2 separate regions of the Homo sapiens genome follow, and region 2 is linked to region 1. A link means that fine-mapping ties the variant in region 1 to the expression of a gene that starts in the linked region. Tissue or cell type: whole blood. Region 1 holds a variant in brackets; the other region holds the start of a gene. All regions are shown on one strand. Distances are from middle to middle.

Region 1 (8,412 bases):
GGCCGGCCAGGAGGTGAGCTGCCAAGAGGCTTCACCAGGCCTGCAGAACTTCAGAGAATCGCTATAGTCCAGGTCAGACTCCCTGCCTGTCGGTATGTGGAGCGCGGGTCTACAGCTCACAGAACTGAGTTCTCAAATCCAGGTATCAGTGTGCTAATTTGTAAGAAGAAATTATTGGCATGGGGGCTGAACCCCAAAATCTACAGGCAAATCTATGTGGAATGTCAAATGGTAAGCCAGGACTCAGGACAAGATGGGACGATTGAGATGAATTGGGGGTGGGGCCGAGATAGTGGACTAGAGGCAGCTCATGTGTGCTGCTGTTTTGGAGAAGAAACAAAAGGACTAGCAAACACTGAGCTGCAGGCCGATCATCTGAAAAACCACGTTGGGACCCATCAGGGCAGTAGAGGAACACAGAGTGCAGAAAGGAGTGAAGCCAGGCACCAGCTGTTTGGGCTCAGCATGGAGCCAGGAGAACCTCTCCAGCACAGGACAGGGTGAGTGAGTGAGAGCCCCCAGGGTGATTCATGCTCTCCACAGGGACCTGTGCAAGACTGGGAATAGGAGAATCCCACTGGGCCCCACACCCACCCATCGTGTTTCTAGACTGAGGCAGAGAGCCACTCAGACGTATTATAGGGCCAACTCTCGAGTCCAAGGGGACCTCTATAAGCCTTGGGCCCTGGGGCAGACCAGCCAGCGCCGAAGCCCCAGCAAAGGCTGCAGTTGCCATGCATGGGAGCAGTAAGGTTGCTCCACCCACCCATGCTGGGTAGGACTCAACACCAGCCTCTAGCCCAGTAGTCTCACTTCAGCCTGAACTCGGCCAGCCACTCCACCCACCCCCACCACTGGTAGCCAGGCGGGCAACACCTGCTAGAGCTTCCAGCCTAATAGCCCTGCTTCTGTGTGAACTCAGCTAGAGGGTGCAGCTTTCTGTTGTCCTGGGAAACACCCGAACAGCAGAGTAAGTGACTCTACCTACCCTGCCACTGGTAGCCAGTTGGGTAACAACTGCTAGAGCTCCTGGCCCAGCAGCTCTGCTTCTGTGTGGATTCAACTGGTGGGTGCAGCCTCCTGTTGTCATAGGAAGCACCCAAATGGCAAGGCACATGACCATACCCACCCTTGCCACTGACAGCCAGGTGGATAACACCTGCTAGAGCTTCTGGCCCAGCAGTCCTGCTTCTGTGTGAACTCAGCCAACAAATGCAGCCTTCTGTTGTCCCAGGAAGCACAGACACCAGAGAAGGCATTCCCACCAACACCAGCCACTGGTAGCCAGGCAAGCCACACCTGCCAGAGCTGGCCCAGTGGCTCTACTTCTACCTGAATTTGTCAAGGGACGCAGCCTCCTGTTGCACTGGAAACACCCAGACAGCAGGGCAGCCAACTGCATCCACCCACCCCCGCGTCCTGTAGCCAGATGGGCCACACCCAGTAGTTTCCAATCCAGTGGTCCTGATTCTGCCTGAACTCTGCAGGCAGGGACAACCTCGTGTTTCCCCAGGAAGCACACAGACAGCAGATTGGAGCTGACCTGGCAAGGTTACAGCTTGTCTGCCACCTGTGGCCCTTGCCTAAGGGAGCTCCATGGACCAGAACACCCCAAAAAAGAAATGCAAATAGGGAGACAGTAATTGGAAGGGGCTCCTCCAAGACCTAGGAGTGGACTAGAATTGAAAGCAGTTAACCAAACCCACCTTGGTTTGGTTTGCCCTGTAGTCAAACCCCCAAGGGCATCAAAGAAGAAAAAAGCAAAAACAAAAAATTTCATCCAAAGGACAGCAACTTCAAAGATTGAAGGAACATCAGCCTACACAAATGAGACAGAACTAGCACAAAAACTCTGGCAAATCAAAAAGCCAGAGTGTCTTCTTTCCTCCAAATGACCACACTAGTTCCCCAGCAAGGGTTCTTAACTGGGCTGGAATGACTGAAATGACAGAAATAGAATTCAGAATATGGATAGGAATGAAGATCATCAAGATTCAGGAGAATTCAAAACCCAATCCAAGGAAGCTAATAATCACAATAAAACAATACAGGAGCTGACAGATGAAATAGCCTCTATAAAAAAGAACCCAACTGATCTGATACAGCTGAAAAACACACTACAAGAATTGCACATTCTAACTGCAAGTATTAACAGCGGAATAGACCAAGCTGAGTAAAGAATCCCAGAGCTTGAAGACTAGCTCTCTGAAATAACCCATTCAGACAAGAATAAAGAAAAAAGAATAAAAAAGAGTGAACAAAACCTCAGAGAAATATGGGATTATGTAATGAGATCAAATCTATGACTCATGGGCATCCCTGAAAGAGACAGGGAGAAAGCAAGCAACTTGGAAAACATATTTTAGGATAATGTTCATGAAAATTTCCTGAAGCTTGTTAGAGAGGCCAACATTCAAATCCAGGAAATGCAGAGAACCCTGAGAGATATTACTCAAGACCATCCCCAAGACACATAATCGTCAGATTCTCCAAAGTTTACATGAAAGAAAAAATGTCAAAGGCAGCTAGAGAGAAAGGGCAGGTTACCTACAAAGGGAACTCCATCAGGCTAACAGCAGATCTTTCAACAGAAACCCTAAAAGCCAGAAGAGACTGGTGGCCTATATTCAGCATTCTTTTTTTTTTTTTTTTTTTTTTGAGACAGAGTTTTGCTCTGTTGCCCAGGCTGAGTGCAGTGGCATGATCTCAGCTCACTGCAACCTCTACCTCCTGGGTTCAAGTGATTCTTCTGTCTCAGCCTCCCAAGTAGCAGGGATTACAGGCACCCGCCACTATGACCAGCTAATTTTTGTATTTTTAGTAGAGACAGGGTTTTGCTGTGTTGGCCAGGCTGGTTTCAAACTCCTGACCTCAGGTGATCTGCCTGCCTCAGCCTCCCAAAGTGCTGGGATTACAGGTATGAGCCACCTTACCTGGCCTCATTTCATTCTTAAAGAAGAAAATTTCCAACTAAGAATTTCATATCTGGCCAAACTAAGCTTCATATGTGAAGGAGAAATAAGATGATTTTCCGACAAGCAAATGCTGAGGGGATTTTTTTTTTTCCACCAGATCTGCCTTATGAGCAGTCCTGAGAGGAGTAGCAAATATGGATGGGAAAGACCATGACTAGCCATTACAAAAACACACTTAAGTAGACAGACTAGTGACACTATAAATCAACCACACTAACAAGTCTGCATAATAACCAGCTAACATGATGACAGGATCAAATCTGCACATATCAATACTAACCTTGAATGTAAATCAGCTAAATACCTCAATCAAAAGGCACAGAGTGGCAAGCTGGATAAAAAAGCAAGACCCAATAGTATGCTGTCTTCAAGAGACCCATCTCACATGTAATGACATCTATAGGCTCAAAATAAAAGGATGGAGAAAAATCTACAAAGCAAACAGAAAACAGAAAAAAAGCAGGGGTTGCAATCATAATTTCAGACAAAATGGACTTTAACCTAACAAAGATAAAAAAAGATAAACAGGGCATTATATAATAGTAAAGGGTACAATTCAACAAGAAGACCTAACTATCCTAAATATATACACACTCAACACAGGAGCACCCAGATTCATAAAACAAGTTCTTAGAGACCTATGAAGAGATTTAGATTCCCACACAATAATAATGGGAGACTTCAACACCCCACTGACAGTATTAGACAGATCATTGAGGCAGAAAATTAACAAAGCTATTCAGGACCTGAACTGAACACTTGACCAAAGTAACCTGATAGACATCTACAGAGTGCTCCACCTAAAAACAACAGAATATACATTCTTCTTATCACCAAATGGCACATACTCCAAAATCAACCAGACAATCAGACATAAAACAATACTCAGCAAAATAAAAAAACCTGAAATCATACCAACCACATTCTCAGACCACAGTGCAATAAAAATAGAAATCAATACTAAGAAAATCATTGAAATCACACAATTACATGGAAATTAAACAACCTGCTCCAAAATGACTTTTGGGTAAATAACGAAATTAGGTCAGAAATAAAAAAATTCTTCCAAACTAATGAGAACAAAGATATGACATACAAGAATCTCTGGGACACAGCTAAGGCAGTGTTAATAGGGAAGTTTATAGCACTAAATGCCCACATGAAACAGACAGATCCCAAATTAACAACCTAATATTACAACTAGAAGACCTAGGAATGCATGAGCAAACCAACCCCAAAGCTATTGGAAGACAAGAAATAACCAAAATCAGAGCTGAACTAAAGGAAATTGAGACACAAAAACCATACAAAAGATCAACAAATCCAGAAATCGGTTCTTTGAAAGAAATTAATCAGATAGATAGATCACTAGCTAGACTAATAAAGAAAAAACGAGAGAAGATCCAAATAAATACAATTAGAAATTACAAAGAGGAGGTTACCACTGGCCCCACAGAAATACAAAACACCTTTAGAGACTACTTTGAATACCTCTATGCACACAAACTAGAAAATCTAGAAGTGGATAAATTCCTGGACACATACAGCTTCCTAAGACTGAACCAGGAATAAACTGAATCCCTGAACAGACCAATAATGAGTTCTGAAATTGAATTAGTAATAAAAAGCCCACCAACCAAAACAAACAAACAAACAAACAAAAAAGGTCCAGGAC[C/G]AGAGGGATTCTCAGCCAAATTCTACCTGATGTATAAAGAAAAGCTGGTACCATTCCAACAGAAACTATTACAAAAAATTGAGGAGGAGGGACTCCTCCCCAACTCATTCTATGAGGCCAGCATCATTCTGATACCAAAACCTGTCAGAGACACAACAACAACAAAAATAAAAAGAAAAGAAAAATTCAGGCTGATATTTTTGATGAACATAGATGCACAAATTCTCAACAAAATGCTAGCAAACTGAATCCAACAGCACATGCAAAGTTGGTTTAACATATGCAAATTGGCCGGGCACAGTGGCTCATGCCTGTAATCCCAGCACTTTGGGAGGCCTAGACGGGCAGATCACGAGGTCATGAGATCGAGACCATCCTAGCTAACACGGTGAAACCCTGTCTCTACTAAAAATACAAAAAATTAGCTGGGTGTGGTGGTGGGTACCTGTAGTCCCAGCCACTTGGAAGGCTGAGGCAGGAGAATGGCATGAACCTGGGAGGCGGAGCTTGCAGTGAGCCGAGATTGCGCCACTGCATTCCAGCCTGGCTGACAGAGCAAGAGTCCGTCTCAAAAAAAAAAAAAAAAGAAAAAGCTATTTTGAAATTCATATGGAACCAAAAAAGAGCTCGAATAGCTAAGGCAACCCTAAGCAAAGCTGAAGGCATCACCTTACCCAACTTCAAACTATATACTACAGGGCTACAGTAACCAAAACAGCATGGTACTGGTACAAAAACAGACATATAGACCAATGGAACAGTAGAGAGAGCCCAGAAATAATGCCATACACCTATAACCATCTGATCTTCAACAAAGTTGACAAAAAAAAAGAGTAATGGCAAAAAAAAAAAAAAAAAGCAATGGAAAGTACTCCTTATTCAATAAATGGTGCTAGAATAAATGGCTAGCCACATGCAGAAGATTGAAATTTGACCCCTTCCTTACACCATATACAAAATCAACTCAAGATGGATTAAAGACTTATGTGTAAAAACTCAAACTATAAAAACACTGGAAGATAACCTAGGACATGCCATTCTGGACATAGGACTTGGTGAAGATTTCATAATGAAGACACCAAAAGCAATTGCAACGAAACAAAAATTGACAAATGGCATGTAATTAAATTAAAGAGCTTCTGCACAGCAAAAGAAACTATCAACAGAGTAAACAGACAACCTACTGAGAGAAAATATTTGCAAACTATACATCTGACAAAGGTCTAATATCCAGAATCTATAAGGAACTTAAACAAATTTACAAGCAAAAACAACCCCATCAAAAAGTGGGCAAAGAACATGAACAGACACTTTTCAAAAGAAGACATATATGCAGCCAAAAAGCATATGAAAAATGCTCAACATCACTAACCATTAGAGAAATGCAAATGAAAACTACAAGATACCATCTCACACCATTCAGAATGGCTATTATTAAAAAGTCAAAAAATAATAGATGTTGGCGAGGTTGTGGAGAAAAGAGAATGCTTATACAGTGCTGATGGGAGTGTAAATTAGTTCAGCCATTGTAGAAATAAGTGTGGCAACTCCTCAGTGAACTTAAAACAGAATTACCATTTGACCCAGCAATCCCATTACTGGGTATATACCCAAAAGAATATAAATCATTCTACCATAAAGATACATCCATGCATATGTCCACTGCAGCCTATTCACAATAGTAAAGACACATAATCAACCTAAATGCCTATCAATGGTAGACAGGATAAAGAAAATGTGGTATATATACATCATGGAATATTATGCAGCCATAAAAAGAATGAGATCATGTCCTTTGCAGCAACATGGATAGAGGTGGAGGCATTATCCTTAGCAAACTAAGACAGGGACAGAAAACCAAATACCACCTGTTCTCACTTGTAAGTGGGAGCTAAACAAGGAGAACACGTGGATACTAGGAGGGAAACAACAGACACTGGGGCCTGCTTGAGAGTGGAGGGTGGGAGGAGGGAGGGGATCAGAAAAAACACCTATCAGTCACCCATTTCTGGGATGGGGGATAGGTACTAGATAGCTTCAGGGCAGGGGCTGGTCACCAGAAGAACCAACCCTGTGATTAGAGGGCTGGAACTTTTAGCTTCATCTCCTGACTTCTGGGGAGGAAAAGTGAGTGGGGATTGAGTTCAATCATATAGCCGATGATTCAGTCAATTATGCCTACATAACAGAAGCCCATATAAAAACCCTGGAACAACAAGGTTTGGAGAGAGAGCTTCTGGGCTGGCGAACACCTCCATGTGCTGGGAGGCGCATGTGTCTGGAGAGGTGTGGAAGTTCTGTGCCCCCGCCCTATACATCTCCATTTGGCTATTCCTGACTTGCATCCTTTATAAGAAAACTGCAATCGTAAGTGCAGTGTAGCCTTTTCATGAGTTCTGTAGTCATTCCAGCAAATTATCATGAGTCATGGGACTCCCCCCCCAAATCTGTAGCCAGGTCAGACAGAAGTGTGGGTAGTGCGGGTAGCCTGGGGACCTGGAACTCGTGTTTGGCATCTGTAGTGGGGACAGGCTTGTGGGAACTGAGCTCCTTAACCTGTGAGGTCTACACTAACTCCAGTTAGCTAGTGTCAAATTGAATCGTAGGACACTTGGTCAAAGAATTATTGTTGGAAACTACCAGGGTACTTAAATTGTTTGCTCATAAACCCTCCCACTTTGAATGGGCCCAACCAACATTTACTCCAGTGACTCTTATCTGAGCTTCCTGGCTGATCTTTTTTTTTTTGAAACAGAGTCTCGCCGTGTCACCTAGGCTAGAATATAGTGGCATGATCATAGCTCAGTGTAACCTGAAACTCTTGGGCTCAAGCAACCCTTCTGCCTCAGCCTCCTGAGTAGTTGGGACTACAGGGGTGTGCCACCATGCCCAGCTATTTTTGCATTTTTTGTAGAGACAAGATCTTGCTATGTTGCCCAGGCTGATTTCGAACTCCTGGGCTCAGGCAATCCACCTGCTTTAGCCTCCCGAGTGCTGGGATTATAGGCATGAGCCACCGCACCTGGCCCCACTTCCATTTTTTTTGTGGTTACACATTCCTTCTACACACATATCAATATGTTCACATGTTCAAGTCTTGCAGGCTTGAGAGCCATTCTTTGCATATCTCTGCTCCTGTCCATTCTGTTTTGATGACACAGCCTAATTTTAGCCTGAAGTATTGATAGCTCAGTCTTTGTTTAGCTTTGGGCCTTGGCATCCCTGTCCTCTTTTGGAGTTGTGGCTAGAAGTCCTCAAATGCTTCCTGGCTTGTCGTGCAAACCTCACAAGTATCTTTATATTGTACATCTCTGGACTGCAGAGGTGTGACTGTCCAACATCACCATGATTTAGCACTAACTGGAATTTAAAGAGTAACCTGCTTCTCCAGTCTCTGACTCAGCTAGTTCAAATGTCTGCAGTATTTCCTCTCATCCTCACCCACTGGGACACTAAGACTGCTTCGGACTCACCCCACAAGCAGAGGGGGCTGATAAATTAGAGCTGAATTACATACAACTCCCATCTGCCAAAAAAAACCCCTCAACTGCATGTTACAAGCTATGGTGTAAAATTCCTTCCTTGTAAGAGACAAAACAAAAACTCCAGAGAGCCATAAACTTGCTCAAATTCTGACCCTGAAATTCCACTTCCAGACCTAAGGAAATAATCAGAGATACAAAGAATTATGTAAAAGTTCTAAACTGTAATATTACTTACAAAGTGAAAAAGTAGAAATAATCTAAATATCTAACAAAGAAC
Region 2 (5,000 bases), 23 kb before region 1:
AATACAGGTGATACAGGAAGGCCTGGGAGTGCCCTGGGGGATTGCTGGGATTCAAGTTGGCTGATTTATGAAGGTGTTGAGCCACATTGTGTGGAGTGAGCATGGAGGCCTCCTCACCCACAAGATGTAACAGCTGGAAGGCGGTGAGCCAGGCCTCTGGGATGGCTGCAGCCTGGGTCAGGGTCAATCCCTCTGGGATAGGCATGAGGAGCCCTTCGGGGACAGTGACGTACTGAGCCTGGCCCCCACCGGGGAGCAGAGCCATGGCTGTGTCCCCGATCTTCCAGTGTCCCTGGCAGCCAGGCCCCAGCTCTGCCACATGTCCAGATGCCTCAAGTCCCAAAATGTTGCTGGCTCCTGGAGGTGGGTCATACTGGCCTTGTCTCTGCAGAGAAAGAAGTGCACTAAGTGGTGAGCATGATCAGAAATCTGTATGTCACTACCCCTGGCCCCCCTTCCAAGATCCCCTCTTTTTTTTTTCAAAAATAAATTTCAGAATGAAGTCAGGTTTTTGTAAGTAAGGAGAAGAAAAAGGAGAGGCCATTAGTTTTATGCAAATAAACTGGAGGTCACATGATCAGTGGATGTTATAACTGGTAGAGTCCTTAGCTATTTACCTCATCTGAACCCCTTGCTTTACAGATGGAGAAACTGAGTCCCAGACGGGAAATAATAGTAGTGGGATTAGGAACCTTGACGATGGTTCCCATGCATCAAGCGCTAGGCTCTGTGCTCACTCACCCCAGTCCTCAGAAGCTGTAGAGCAGAGGGACTTAACCAGGAGTGTGTGGCAGAACCACCTGAGGAGTATTTCAAAGTACACGTGCCTGGGCCCCCATCACGTTTCTTTTGTGCCCCGGGGGATTCTGATGCACATTTCTGAATGACCCCAACCAATGCAGCTGGCCCAGGTCAGTAAATCAGCATCAGACAGAAGAAAATTCTTAAGAGTACTGCCCGCTGTCAGCTCCGGGACTCTCAGAGTGGAAAGAGTTAAGAGGTCTTTGGAGCCACAAAGACCTCAGCTTGAATCCCAGCTCTTCTGATTGCTAGTGTCACGGCCTTGGGCGTACTGCTTAACCTCACTGAACTTCAGTTTCCTTATCTGTAGAATTAAGATGGCGAACAGGGTAGCCTGGGGAGTAAGTGTGCCCACACCCCACAACAATGTTAGTTCCGCCCTCATCTGGAGGCCTGAGTGGCTATGGATTAGCTCGGGGTGGATTCTGCTTTACAAGTACTCCCCCTTGTTTTGCATGAACAAAGAGGGCGCCCTGGGTTTAGGTCTGGGAAGCCCCAGCGCAGCTGCCTGCTGGGTGTGGAGCGGTGCACGCCTTCACGTCTGGTCAATGTCCACTGAGTGCTGTTGAGAGGGAGGCTCTGGAGTCCCGCCCGCCCCGGCGCGGCTGAGCCCTGGGTACCTGCATTAAGTCCGCCCGGTTCAGGGCGCTGGCCGCCACCTTCAGGAGGACTTCACCCTCCCCCGGGCTCGGCTTGGCCACCTCCTTCACGTAGAGGTTTTCCGGTCCTCCCGGCTTGTCAAAGTGCACGGCTAACATATTGTCTGAGGACACAGGGCAGGGCAGGGCAGGACAGGACAGGGCAGGGCAGGGCAGGACAGGACAGGGCAGGGCAGGACAGGACAGGGCAGGGGCCGCTGTATCCTCGCGGAGCAGCCCAGCCTCAGGCTGGCACCGCAGCGCCCCCTGCCGGCCAGCGCCTCGCTGCCCTGGTCTGCCGCGGACCCGGCCTCCGCCCCGAGCTCCTGCCTGGGAAGTCCTCGGCCGCCTCCAGACCGATCCCACCCGGAACACAGATGGGAACGGCGGGAAGTGGGATGGCGGTACAGGGCTGGATGCGGCAGAGCAGGACAACGCCGAAGAGGATCAGGCAAATCACACTCCCTCTGAGTTGGAAGCCCCCAGCCCGACCCGGGTCCCCGGCGCCCGTATGAGTTACTTACTCCTGGCCCGGCTCCCCTCCCATGCACCAGGCGGCGCCGAGTGGTTCTGGCTCCTGCGGGTCCCGGTGACAAAGCCCGAGCCCCAGAGCCCCAGGACTGCCTCTGCCTCCACCGGAATGGACGGCTGGACCTGGGGTAGCCGGAGGGGTGGGGCTAAGCAGAACCACCCTCCCCCTCTTTCCTTTCCTCCTTCCCCCTTTAAAACGCAAAGTTAGAAGCAAGCAAATCAGATTTTCTTGTCCTTTTAGCCTCTGGAAAAGAGTCTTTCTCTCAGCTTGACAGAAAGTGCGATTCTAGCTCTCACTTCAAGGAGAGGAAACTTCCTTCTCTCTAGGGAACGAGACCCAACCTCTTGGCGGGCGGATTGGTCCATTTTCCAGGCATGGCCAGGCTTTTGGCACATTTATGTAACAGGCTGGCATCCCGCCCATCTTGAGCATGGGTGGGCAAGCTGGGTGCTGCTAAGAGAAGAGAAAGGAGCCGTTGGGAGTGGGGGTGGGGAAGGAAGGCAAAACGCAGTCCTGGGATCCTTATCACTCGCCTCCTCCTGACAGTCCTGGGGGAGAGGTTCAGCCCCAGGAGAAGGATGCTGGCGATTGGGTAAAAGCTGTATCCGTAAGCTACATGAAGGTTTCTCAATCTCGGCGCTATTGACATTTTGGACTAGCTAGTTCGTTATTGTAGGAGATCGTCCTGTGCATCGTAGGATGTTTAGCAGCATCCCTGGCCTCCCCCCACTACATATCCGTAGCACTCCTTGTAAATTCCTGTTTTAGTAAGAACCTCCCATCCTTGACATCTGATCACCCTCAATATCTCATCCTCCACCATCCCCCAAGTGATATCCGACCACCCTGGCCTGTCTTCAGTGAGAATCCTGTTAGGTCAGTTTAGATAGAATCCCCCTTACCCCTGATGCCTCTTACCAATTTTCCATCCACTGACCCCCTACACTGCTCCTTGGCTATACATTCCCACTTGTCCGTGATGCATTCAGAGTTGATCCCAACCTGTCTCCTCCACTGCAAGAACTCATTGCAGTGGTCCCTAAACCTGTAGCGATGGTGCTAAATAAAGTCTTCCTTAATGTGCTTTAACAAGTATCATTGAATAATTATTTCTTTAACACAACAGAGCAAAAGCCTATAGAGATGGAAATAATAAAATGATGGGACTTAAGGAAAAATTCAGGAGACCCTGCTATGAGAATAACAGGAATTTTAGGCCGGGCGCGGTGGCTCACGCCTGTAATCCCAGAACTTTGGGAGGCCAAGGCGGGCGGATCACGAGGTCAGGAGATCGAGACCATCCTGGCTAACACGGTGAAACCCCGTCTCTACTAAAAATACAAAAAATTAGCCGGGCGTGGTGGCGGGCGCCTGTAGTCCCAGCTATTCGGGAGGCTGAGGCAGGAGAATGGCGTGAACCCGGGAGGGGGAGCTTGCAGTGAGCCGAGATCGCACCACTGCACTCCAGCCTGGACGACAGAGTGAGACTCCGTCTCAAAAAAAAAAAAAAAAAAGGAATTTTAGAAGGAGGAAGAGGAATGGATGAAGAAGATTCAATAGTTAACCAAATAAAAGAATACAGTTTTCCTAAATTCTACCAGATTATACGGATTGAAAACATTCACTAAAGGATGGATTCATAAGAACAAAAATGCATGCCTATATTTTATAAAATTTCAGGTTCTAACAAGTGTGGAAAGAATAAGTTACTCACAATTGGTTAAAAAAAATGGCTTCCTTCTCTCCCTCCCTCCCTCCTTCCTTCCTTCCCTCCTTCCCCACCCCCTCTTTCTCTCTCTCTCTTTTTTGTAGTGTAGGGGTCTCATTATGTTGCCCAGGCTGGTCTCAAACTCCTGGACTCAAGCAATCCTCCTGCCTCAGCCTCCCAAAGTGCTAGGATTACAAGTATGAGCCACTGTGCCCAGCAAGTTTCTATCTGCAATCTGGAAGCTAGAAGAGAGTAGACTAGCGTCTATTGACTAGAAGAAAAGCACTGTAACTCAATATACCCCATTAAGATATAATTCACTTGTTAGGGCAAAAAACATGTCTGAGGATGTATAAGGATTCAGAGACACATCATCCGGATACACATCTGTCCAAAATCGAGGAAAGGTTTGAACCAAATAAATATCCTAGAACAGAGACAGATGGAAAGGAAATAGTTGTAAATAACAAACTTTGCAAAAATCGACACTAAAACTGATTGGATTAAGAAAATGGAATGGATTAAGATAGATGAGGAATGTGTAATGTAAGTGCTAAATAAGAACTTTTAAGATGCAAGGAGTAACTTTAAAAAAAATCTAATAATACCAACCACTAAGTATACTAAAGTATCCCAGTAAAACTAGTAGTTGAAAGTGCCTAAGATTTTATCTTAGTGAGCCCTTGGTCGATGTAATCTTGCAGTGTGTAATAAGAAATATATATTTTTGGTCTTTGTCCTGGGTTCCTACAATAGCACTCCTAAAACCTTTGTTATTTGCTGAATAAACATCTCTTTCTTTCTTTTGTTTTTAACTAGATATACGGTCTTGCTACGTTGCCCAGGCTGATCATGAACTCCTGGACTCAAGCAATTCTCCCACCTCAGCCTGTAAAGTACTGGAATTATAGGCATGAGCCACTCTGCCTGGCCAATAAGTATCTTTTATTATATTTTGTTCTCCTGCAGAGCTCCTAAAACCCTTGGAATTTCGTATGTGATAGAAGTGACTTTTTATATTAATAACAAACCCTTATAAGCACACTCGAGTTTATGCTAATATGACTTAGGGTGGGGGCCCTAGATAGCTTCAGGATGAGCTGGTCACCAGAAAGACCCTGGGAAGGGGAAGCAGGGACTGGAGATTACACGCTATAAGAATTCTTTTTTGTTGTTGTTGTTGAAACTGAGTCTCACTCTGTTGCCCAGGCTGGAGTGCAGTGGCCTGACCTCAGTTCACTGCAACCTCCACCTCCTAGGTTCAAGCGATTCTCCTGCCTCAGCCTCCCGAGTAGCTGGGACTACAGGTGTGAGCCACCAC

What was found. PIP is the estimated chance that this variant, and not a neighbour inherited with it, causes the effect.
Region 2: it holds the start of TP53I3, and the variant in region 1 is fine-mapped to the expression of TP53I3 in whole blood (TOPMed, PIP above 0.99).

The regions. Positions count from the first base shown.
Region 1 is chr2:24,103,681-24,112,092 of GRCh38, forward strand. It overlaps a transcript of FAM228B not described here. Among named protein-coding and RNA genes, the nearest start is that of PFN4, 15 kb to the right of the region's middle. RefSeq lists an enhancer at 1,229-1,288. The variant C/G (reference allele first, on the strand shown) is at 4,651.
Region 2 is chr2:24,082,768-24,087,767 of GRCh38, forward strand. It overlaps TP53I3 (tumor protein p53 inducible protein 3), which reads right to left and starts at 2,067. Exons shown (of 5, transcript NM_004881.5): 1 at 1,422-2,067; 2 at 118-385. The coding sequence starts at 1,559. It also overlaps a transcript of FAM228B not described here. RefSeq lists enhancers at 1-709, 1,305-1,404, 1,555-1,604, 2,352-2,852 and a silencer at 1,615-1,794.